Regions from separate parts of the Homo sapiens genome. Here region 2 is linked to region 1. The links come from fine-mapping of genetic effects on gene expression. A gene starts in region 1. The other region holds a variant in brackets. All regions are shown on one strand. Distances are from middle to middle.

The links. PIP is the estimated chance that this variant, and not a neighbour inherited with it, causes the effect.
Region 2: its variant is the best candidate, but not a certain one, in a credible set for the expression of CHMP4C in sun-exposed skin (GTEx, PIP 0.53).

What each region holds. Positions count from the first base shown.
Region 1 is chr8:81,729,136-81,734,675 of GRCh38, reverse strand. CHMP4C (charged multivesicular body protein 4C) reads right to left here and starts at 2,228. Exons shown (of 5, transcript NM_152284.4): 1 at 1,860-2,228. The coding sequence starts at 2,049.
Region 2 is chr8:81,753,592-81,758,591 of GRCh38, reverse strand. It overlaps CHMP4C (charged multivesicular body protein 4C), which reads right to left. Exons shown (of 5, transcript NM_152284.4): 3 at 3,108-3,222; 4 at 297-450; 5 at 1-112. The coding sequence ends at 48. Among named protein-coding and RNA genes, the nearest start is that of CHMP4C, 24 kb to the right of the region's middle. The variant C/T (reference allele first, on the strand shown) is at 2,066.

The DNA of each region.
Region 1 (5,540 bases):
TCCTAGAAGGAAATGGTCAATTTTTTAGATTTTTAAAACCAACATCAGCCAGGTGCGGTGGCTCACACTTGTAATCCTAGCCCTTTGGGAGGCCAAGGCAGGTGGATCACCTGAGGTCAGGAGTTCGAGACCAGTCTTACCAACATGGAGAAACCCTGTCTCTATTAAAAATATAAAATTAGCTGGGTGTGGTGGCACATGCCTGTAATCCCAGCGACTCGGGAGGCTGAGGCAGGAGAATCGCTTGAACCTGGGCGGCAGAGGTTGCGGTGAGCCAAGATCGCGCCATTGCACTCCAGCCTGGGCAACAAGAGTGAAACTCTGTCTCAAAACAACAACAACCACCACCAATATTTGCTGAGCAACCATGGTAGACAAAGCTGTACACAGATCCAAATAGATGGCAAAGGGAAGAAAACCCTTGACAGACACTAAGCAAACGTCAGAGTGTGTATCAAACTGAAGAGGAAGGGCCAAGGAGCAAAATGACCAACAACATTTTTAGCAAGCCATAATGACATGGTCTTTCTTTAGAAATTGCCATTGCATAACTTCCCAGAATATTTTCAGACACAAAGTAAAAGTAGAAATCAGTACTTACCTCTAAAACAGGCTATAATATGCACAAAAGTTATATGCAATAAAACAGCCTTCTTATTGTTGGTGGTAAGTGGGCATAAATGTAGCTGGCACACTTTTACAGAAAGAGGCAGAGTTCTCAAGTTCATCTCCTTGAGACTTCATTCCTTTCCTGCATTAAACAATGGCAGCATCCTGTAGAGTGAGCCAAATCTTCCCAAGGCTTCATTATGACTAAAGAAGCCCAACTTGAGGGTGCAAATGTTTGGGTTTGGTGGTAAGCAGAGTCCGATATTGCCACTTCCTTTTCTGGGTCTGCCATGAACCCGGTGTTACAAGAGCAAATCACTTCAACTTCTCACTGAGTTTTTATCTGTGCCACAGGTGCTGTTTAGAGGTATTCCAATAGAAGGAGCAGTATACTGAAGAAATCAGTTAACTCTGGCAAAGAACAGGTGTTCAAGGTGCAACAGGAACACCAAGAATCATTACTGACTCAAAGTCTCTTGTGTGTGCCAAAAGTCAGTGATAGGAAATTTAATAATTAATTCCTCTACCTTTTTTTTTTTTAAGACTTCAACTGCCGAACATCCAGCTAAAGCTTTCCACAGCTGAGGAGCAAGGTAGACCACAACGTACTAGAATATCCTTTTCTGAAGATTTACGTGCAAGTTAAAATGTGTAATTTAATATACAAACATACAGCAGAAAACTTCATGGTTAGTGTTGGAGTCAGCAAGGCTGGCCTAGAAAAAGCTGGACCAGGAGCAAAATTTACAGGGGTGCGAAAACACTCAGTAATCAAGACAAATAATATTTTAATGCAATATTTTTAAAATTCAAAATTAATATTAAAAAATCCACGATGAACAAATCATCACATTATAAAAAATAATTTTAAATAAAGATGTGCTGCACATAACAACATAAGAGCTAGAGGCAAATGAAAAAAATCAATACCAATCTTGTCTTTATTTAAAATTTTGATATTTTCTTCATCATTTCTTTTTTGGCATTGGTTCTGAGTCCTTTAGGTATTGCATTAAAGTATTGTTCATCTTGATTACTGAGATTTTTGGCGGCCCCTTACATTTTGCCATCAGTGCCAGTGTCTAGCTCAACTCACCCTAGTCAGTGCCCTAAGAGTCAGTACCAGTTCCTAGAAAAGACTGCAGGAGCAAACCTGGCCACCTGGGGACCTCAGTGGTGTGGGCCGATTGTCCCCAAGGGAAAGGCTAGAGGCAGATGGGCTCCCGCCTGTGGGCCAGACCCCAGCCTACCTCGCTTATTCTGCGTGCCGTGCTTCTTGGCCAGGGCGATTTCTCTCTGGATTCGATTTTCCAGGTACTCTTGTTTCTTGCCCAGCATCTCCTCAGTCTCCCGAAGTCGGACCAGGGCCTCCTGGGGACTGGGAGCGGCTCGGCTCTTAGAAGAGCCGCCCCCTTTAAAGAACTTGCCCAACTTGCTCATTGCTGTGGAGTTCGGAGGGCCAGCGATCCCGGGGGCCTCTCGGGAGCTCCCCGGGGCCGCGCCGAGGGGACAGGTGAGCAAGGCAGTCCTCTCGGGGACCCAGACCGGAAAGGCGGCCCTCCTGGGAATCAACAAGTCGTCCTGGACAGGTGACACACACTCCAGGGCATTTCCTGGCTGCCAGTTCGGCCCCGCCCCGCTGCACAGCGGCTGGGCGGGGAGGCCACCGCTGGGACGTCGGCTGGCCGGCGCCACCCGGCCCTCTGGGAGTTGAGCGAGAGCAGAGAAAAGTTGAAAAGACCGACAAAGACTGTGGGAAGTTGGCTTTTATCCACACTAGGGACGGTCCCAGGAACGAGGAACTAGTTTGTGAATGGCTCAAAGAAAAGCAAACCGATGTCCAGGGGTCTTGTGCAGGACCTGAAAGTGTAAGTGCGCAAGACTGGATATGCAAAATGCTTTATTCCATGCGTGTCTTTTGTGTGTACGTGAGCATAGTGTTCCTGTATTCAGGCCTCTGTTCTTGTGAATAAGAATATTCAGATCTTTTCCTCTAAGTGTATGTCATGTAGGTATGAGTGTGTGGACACAAAGGCTTCCAGGATATTTGTCTGCCACTAGGATGCAGGTGTGTGGGCAAGCTCGGAGCAGCTGCTGCTACTGGGCTTGTTTCTGCATTTGGTAGTCCGGGCAGGTTGATGTGTGCCTGGATGCTAGTTGGCACAGTGTAGATTCTAGATCATCCTTACAGGACTTGAAGTGGGTGAAAGATGGTGGCCATCTCTTTTCCTAATGTCAGGACTTCTGGAGTGTGTTGGTGGTTGGATTCAACTCTATAACTAGGAATCCGAAGTTTTCTGAATGATCCTCAGTGTATCAAAAACCTTAAATGGGGCTGCCCTGGTGTTTGGCTGTATGTCAAATGCTATTACATAGATACTTAAGTAACAAAAAGTAGAGAATATCCTGGAGAAGAGAAACATTCTTTTGTTCATGCTCACTATCTCAGCCCATCTATTAGATCTGCTGGCAAATAATTTAGTAAGATGAAAGGACAGCCATATGTAATGCTTATAGATGATGCAATACTGCTGCAAACCTGTGTCAAGCACACTACAAAGAAGTGGAATTATCTGTGTTTTACTCTTCAACGATTGCCATGTGCTCTGCATAATATAGCCGTATTTGAGCAACGTTACCCAACATTACCAAAACCTATTTTTGATTGTTAGCCAGCCACTGTTTAAGAGAAAAAAAAAAAAAAAAAACACCCATTACTCTGACAAATTCACCTTGATACCCAAGATCAATAACACAATTTTGTCTGCAAGCATACAAACACAAAGCAGCAAGTTAATCTATTTATCCAACATTGGCATAGATAGCATAAAATTTTGCCAAAGAAATTGAACACTTCCATAGGAGGCTTACAGTAAGCATCTTCTAACACACAAATATGTGAACTTATCATTTCACAGTAACTGCAGCCAGCCACCTCCTATCATTTCCTGGCTGGCCATGTAAAGCATGTATGGTCTATAACACACATTTTGCTCTAATTTCATGTATAAGTTGTCGTAAGTATTGTTTTTCTTTATTATCTAAATATTTCATGAATAAGTTTTGGAGTGTATTTTCTTGATTAGATTTTTAAGGCCCTTGAGAGTTGAGAAGTAGCACATATTCTGCTATTGTTCCCGTTGCTTTTCAGTTTAACTAGCCTTTATTGAGTGTAAGGTACAGGGAATGCAAGTATAGTCTGCCCTCTAAGAGCTTACCTTCCAGTGACAGTAATAACAGCTACCATCTTTTGAGCACTGACTATGTGTCAGGCTTATCAATAAATATATGCTTATCACTAATCCTTACATAAACCCTGCAAAATAGGTATTGCTGTTTCTGTTAGACAGAAGAAGAACCCAAGGCTCAGTTGATAACTTAACCAAATTTAACAGGCAGCAAAAGTGAAAGAGATCTTTCTGTTTGAAAACGCATGGTCTTTTCACTATTTACATGATGGTATTTCCCTCTGTGCAACTTGGACTAGAGGAAAAACTCATTAAGTATTTGTTTAATTAAATAGCATGGGGTGAAGAGGTAATTATTAGGCATTATCTTTAAGGGATCCTCCAAGCATTATTGAATTCATGGAGGAGTGCATTTAAATAAGAACTTATCCAGAATACTAAGGCATTCTTTGGGGTTCGTTAGTTACTTTTTTTGTTGTGAGAACATTGGACAGTAGAACAGAGAGACAAAGTTATAACTGAGGAATTGCCTAATCCACACATCCATGGTTTCATTCAACTGATGCTTATTAGGTGTCTCTATGATCCAGGCATTGTGCTAGTGTTGGGGATACAGGTAAGAGTAAGAAACATTGTCTGTTCCAACAGAGCTTACAGCTTAGGGGAGAACACAGAAATTAAGCAAATTATCTCACAAACAATAAACTTCATAAGTTGGGGTTCTAATAAATTATATAGAGAAGTACAGGATCTATAAGAATAAATAGTAGAGGAACTTGACCTTGTCTTGGGGTCAGAGTGGCCTGAAAAAGTGATATTTAAGCTAGAATTTGAATGATGAATAGAAGCTACCTGGTTTTAGGGAAGGGAAATTTGTATTCCATTATAAGGAATTCCTTATTCATTTACCAATTTATTTATTCATTTATTCATCACTTTTAGATGTAGAGATTCAGCAGTGAATAAAAAGACAAAAATACATTCATTTTTGGAGCCTACTTTCTAGCTAAGGGAAGATGGACAATTAAGATAGCAATGTACTATGTGTACTATATTTTAAAAAACAAGGCAAAGAATGTTGGAGAATTAAAATTTTAAACAATATGTGCAAAAATCTTGAGTTTGAAGTACTAGGGGTTGAGAAAAGGTCACTGTCGCTGGCGCTTGGAGACAGAAGAGGAGAGTAGGAGAGTGTGGTGAGGTCCCTACAAAGGTAGACAGAGTCCAGATTACATAAGGTCCACATGATGTGCTAAGGATCCGCATTTTATTGAAAAAGCAAATGAAAATCAATCAGACATTAAAACAAAGAAGCTAGTCATTAATTTGTAATTCCATAGGAAAAAATAATCAATTTAACCAATTTAATGTGTAGCTCTTTCAGAAACACATGTGGTGTGCAAAGCAAGATACATTTAAATTAAAAATCATTTCCTTCCATTAATACATAAGCTCAAAGAGGAAAAGATAATACTTGCAAGCAAGTAAACCAACCAAATATATATTAGTGTTTAATCCAGCAGCAGGATGTAGAAAATAAGTTTTTAAATCACTGATTTAGAAGCCAAAAATAACACATTAATCTTCATTCAGTTCTCATCCTACAAATGTGGTTTCACAAAGAGTTCTTAGCATCTAGTGTATTTTTCATTTTCTGATCTCAATTGATCTCAGCTAATAAGAGGCTGTTGTTCAAAAGAATGATCTTGTTCAGGATAATTTACCATGATTAACAGGGCAAAG
Region 2 (5,000 bases), 24 kb before region 1:
ATTTTATCTATAGCTCATTAATTTAGGTATCAAAAATGTGTTTTAGTTTAGGTAGCCCAAGCTGCCAATTGTTTGATATCATCATCCTCTTCTTCTGCCCTCTGGGAAGATGCTGGAACATAAAATAGATAAAAATTAGTAATTGGTGACATTCACACTTTCAGCATAGAAAACAGGTATGAATTACATATAAAAATGTGTTCAGTTTGAAATCAAAAACATGTGCTAAAAAGAATGGGCCTGGCTATCATTTTAGGCAACTATCTGACCACATGTAGTTGAGCTGGGTAACAGACCTGCTCGGGATCGACGTGCAGTGGACGACATGCCTGGTTTTCTATTTGGCTGTGCTGGGAGAGAAGAGGAAGGCACATTTGGAAGGCGGATATTTGTCATCTTCTTATTTAATTCCTCCTGTTCCAATTCTTCAAGTTCTGCCATCAACTCATCCTGAACACAGGAGAAAGGAAGAATTATGGAGTTAACGTTTCAAGACATGGGTTTCCTCAAACACAATAACAAGAACATCTGCTACCCAATTGATATGTGAGAACCCAGTGAAATGGAATATTTATTTTAAAACTAAGTCTTTTTTGCAACACTGAGCAATGATTAAAAAATGAATATTCTGGGTTGTGCAAATTTGTTGTAGTTAATCTTCTAATACTTCAGTAAACAGCCATTCAAGTAATTTGTGCTAGCTGAATATATAACCTCCCCACAGTTTCTGGGAAACTTACACCTTGTCTGTCATCTTTCCAATGTGTTCTTTTCTACTGTTTAGAATCCACAAAATGTTAACTGGTGGAAATAAATGTTTTTCTTTGGGCTAATGCGATTGAAAATAAAACAACAGGTATAGCAAAACCATAACGTACAGAAAGTAAAAGGAATTAAAGATACTATGGTTCTTTTATCAAATCACCAAAGCCAATATAAATTATGCTGTGCATTTGGGTTAAGAAAAGTTCAATTCAAGATAGGTATACTGTATTTCCTTCTTTTAGCAATAGTCCGAGAGAGCCTGGTTTAATCTTAAACTACTCTCTGTCCCAAAAACTTTTGAGAGACAAGGCTAGTTTGAGACCTTAAAAATGTAAGTCACCTTATGCCAATTCTGAGATGACTCAGATAGTTCAGATCTCACTGGCTCCATAAGTCCTGAAGTAGAGTCCAACCCCTCTCAGAGAGAATTTGGGAGTCACAACTGAACTTGTCATTGATGGAATTATGAGGTTGTCACTATTAGAAATGACTTGGGACACCTTATATTCAACCAAGTAGATTTTTCTTTCATGGATGAATAACGAATGAGAGAATTCATTCATTCATTATTCAACAAATTCATTGAGCACTCACTCCTGGGCAGATTTTGAACTCAGTGCTGGGATGCAAAGTTGAATCAACACTCCCTATATTCAAGGAGCTTACACTCAAATGTGGGGGGAAGGCACATAAACAAATAATTATCCAATATTAAAGTGAGAGTAATAACACTGTGGGGAAAGAGAGAAGATATTTAAGCCAACCACAACATTTGATTAAGTCAGTGGGTATCAGAATTGCAGCAAGCTAAAGATTGTCTGACCTCTATTAAATTCGCCTCATAAAAAGGGAAGAAAATATGAAGGTGTATAGCATTGGGCCGTATGAAATAGCACAGTCAATATAGTTGTGTACTTGATGGATCTCCACAGGCTATATGACTAAAATGGAACAGAATGAATACCCTGGCGTCCTATTTCTGCTCACAAAACAATCAGGGACAAATACCATAAATATAGTAATGGCAGAACAAGCTATCCTATGCCGAATGTATGCCCACAATTGCCAATAGTGCATCATCGTTATCAACAGCAGCAGAAACATATTAATGTTTTCTTTAGCAATATGGTAACAACAGAGTAATCATCTCCTCCATCATTTTCATCCTTTAGGTACCAAACACTAATTTGACCATTGAGAATAGAATTTTGGAACTTAAGATGTTTTGGAGATAATCCAGGGATCCAAAAATCTTCATTATCACAGATAAGAAAACTAACAGTCAGAAAAGTAAAAGAGA[C/T]TTACACAAAGTTTTTAACAAATGATAGAGCCCAGATGTCCACATAAGCCCAGATTCCTTTCCACCATATCATAATGTACTCACTAGATGCTTACTAGTCTACATCAGGAGTTGAAAAACTTTCTCTGTAAAGGCCCAAATAGTAATATTGCAGGATTTGCAGGCTGCATGTTTTCTTCTGCCCCATAGTCTCCTTTGTTGTTATTGTTTTCTACAACATTAAAATTGTGAAACCCATCCTGAGCTTTTGGGATATACAAACAGGTCACGGGAAGAATTTGGCCTGCAAGCCATATTTTTGCTGACCCCTTGTCTACACCATTTTTAAAAGGTATTGATACCCCATTCTCATTTTTGGGGATTCCATGGAACCAGGTCTTACTTGCTAAATGTGTTATTTTTAATATCACATAGATGCAGGAAGTTGGATTCTTTGCCATGCTAATCCAAGCTTTGGAAATGTTTCTAAATGTGTACTAGTCCTACTTGTGTGTGCTTTGAGCAGAACAATTGAAATTCACAGTGCAGACATCACCATTATAATTATAGTCTGTCTGTATTATTGGACTGATTAATCTAAATGGAATGTGTGTGTTAATAATGCCACTCCACATTTATTTGGTTTCATAGCCTGAGTAATAAACAGAGGCAGCCTAACCTCTAATTTAACAGCTACAGAGCATGATACGTCTGTTTCATGCAGAATGACGAAGTCTACTTTGTTTTGCCCAGATGTGCAAGCACTCAGTTCCTCGTAATGGGGCTGTTTAGGCTTCAACCACTAAAAGTCACTAACTTTACACAATCACATGCTGTTCTTTCCTTAATAGCTGAAAACTTAATCAGGCCACTGTTTGCCAAACTGTATTCATCTTTCCTTTAAATCAGAGGTACTAACACTTTATTTTTCTCTTAAGAGAAGTACCTTTCTTACAAATATCACTTGTTCTTTCAGTAGTAAGGGAACATGCCTACTATATATGACAGGAAGCTACTCTTTATAGCAGCCACAATCCTGCATTCTTCATATTGGGTTACGTACCTCATCAAAGTCATCACCAAAGCCAACCCGTTGAGAAAATGCTTCTGAGATTTCTTGGGCGATATCCTGTTGCTCTGTGATCTCTTGCATCAAATCATCTATTTTGTTCAGATCCCTGGGAAATCATATTTTGTTGAACATTTTAGAATTTTAACTTATAATTATGAATTTAGATATAATCCTATATAAAAAGTCAGTTCATTTAATATAAATTCTTAGTTATTTGAGTAGGATAAATATTCCTGATGATATTTATAAACTTTAAAGATAACTTATATTTTAAAAACTTAATAATCCATATATTATAAACATTAAGTAAATACCTATTACATTTGGAACTCACTAAAAATAAAAGTATTTTATAACTATCACTATTTGTAAACCCATTTTGAAATTTTGTCTGATAGGGCATATGACAAATTTAAATACATGCTGCTGTGTATCAACTCTGCAGGAAACACTACCACAGACCACCAGGACCACTGTAACTAGATGAGCTTTGGCAGCTTTTAGGAGCCCCTATCTGACAGCGGCCCTTTGTTGAAGCTAAACACTGGGTCTAGAGATCTATTTTTTGTAACACTTAGCAGCTCTGAAATCCTGGCTCCCCAAGGGTTTTTGCATAGCGGTGATGCCCTGAGAGGTTACTAAAGAGAGCAGGATTAAACCTATACAGCCCTCAGAAGAATTAGCAACTGCAGCAAATAAATCTAGGTAGCTACTTGCTCAGGATGGACAGCCACTTTGAAGACATTTTCCAACACCTGAGCTTCACTGGCTCCTAAACACCCGCCTAAGCATGTCGGTGTCTACATGCCAGGTTCTGGTATGTTTCTATAGTAGCTTATCTCTGAGTAATTCCTCCAACTCTGAAACTAGGCCAAACTGATTGGATATAAGAGAACTGACAATGTCCCTCATTATTAAGTAGCCTAAATACCAAAAGTTTGATTCCCAGTGGAAGTAATTTTTTTGTGAGTTTCCCTGACTCTGTAAGAGCTATTTTGACATATTTTCATGCAATAATCAAAAAGAATACTTTTACCTCCCTCTGACCATCCCTTATCTTTAAACCTTATTATTCTATTTATACTGAATATAAAACAAATATATTTTTAAAAGGAATATGAAAAAATGTATGGCTCAACTTTGGGCCTGGGAACAAATTTTTCTCAAATGTAATACAATGGTATGATGCTGCCAAGCTGCCTGGAGGGAAAGGCTGATTTTGTGACACATTTTTGTATCCAAAAGCAATAGAGAATTTTGACTCTGATAATGAATCTAATGTCTACCTGAAGCTGTCAAAATGGAGGCTGATTGTTAATGAATTATTCAGAAAAGAAAATGTTAGCAAAGTTGTCTTCACTGCCCCCAGCCACCACCTTTTTCACCTTTTCCCACTCTACAGAAATTTGTCTGCATCTCTTAGGCACTCATTGCTCTTGTGCATCCTTGCCCCAGGTTCCACTATCACATCCAATATCAGGAAAGGATCCGGTCCCAGACATATTTCCCAGTGTGAATGTAAAGCAAATTGTGAATATTAATTATTGAGTGCTCACTTTGTGCCAGGAACTATACTAAGTGCATTATATCTAGTATCTCATTGAATCTCACAATAACCACGAGGTAAGTAAGTACTATTATAATCTCTAATTTACATATAAGGAAACTGAATAAAGTATAATAAATTGCCCAAGGGATAGTCAGCAGTTGACCTGGGATTATAGCCCAGAAAATTTGACCCCCAAATCCATGCTCATGACTATTCTTCTGTGTCAGTGGTTCTCAGACATTGGTTAGCATCGGAATCACATGGACCCAAACACTTTGCAAGTTCAAGTAGCCTGGGCATCTGTGTTCTCTTTATTTATTCTCCAGGTGATTCTG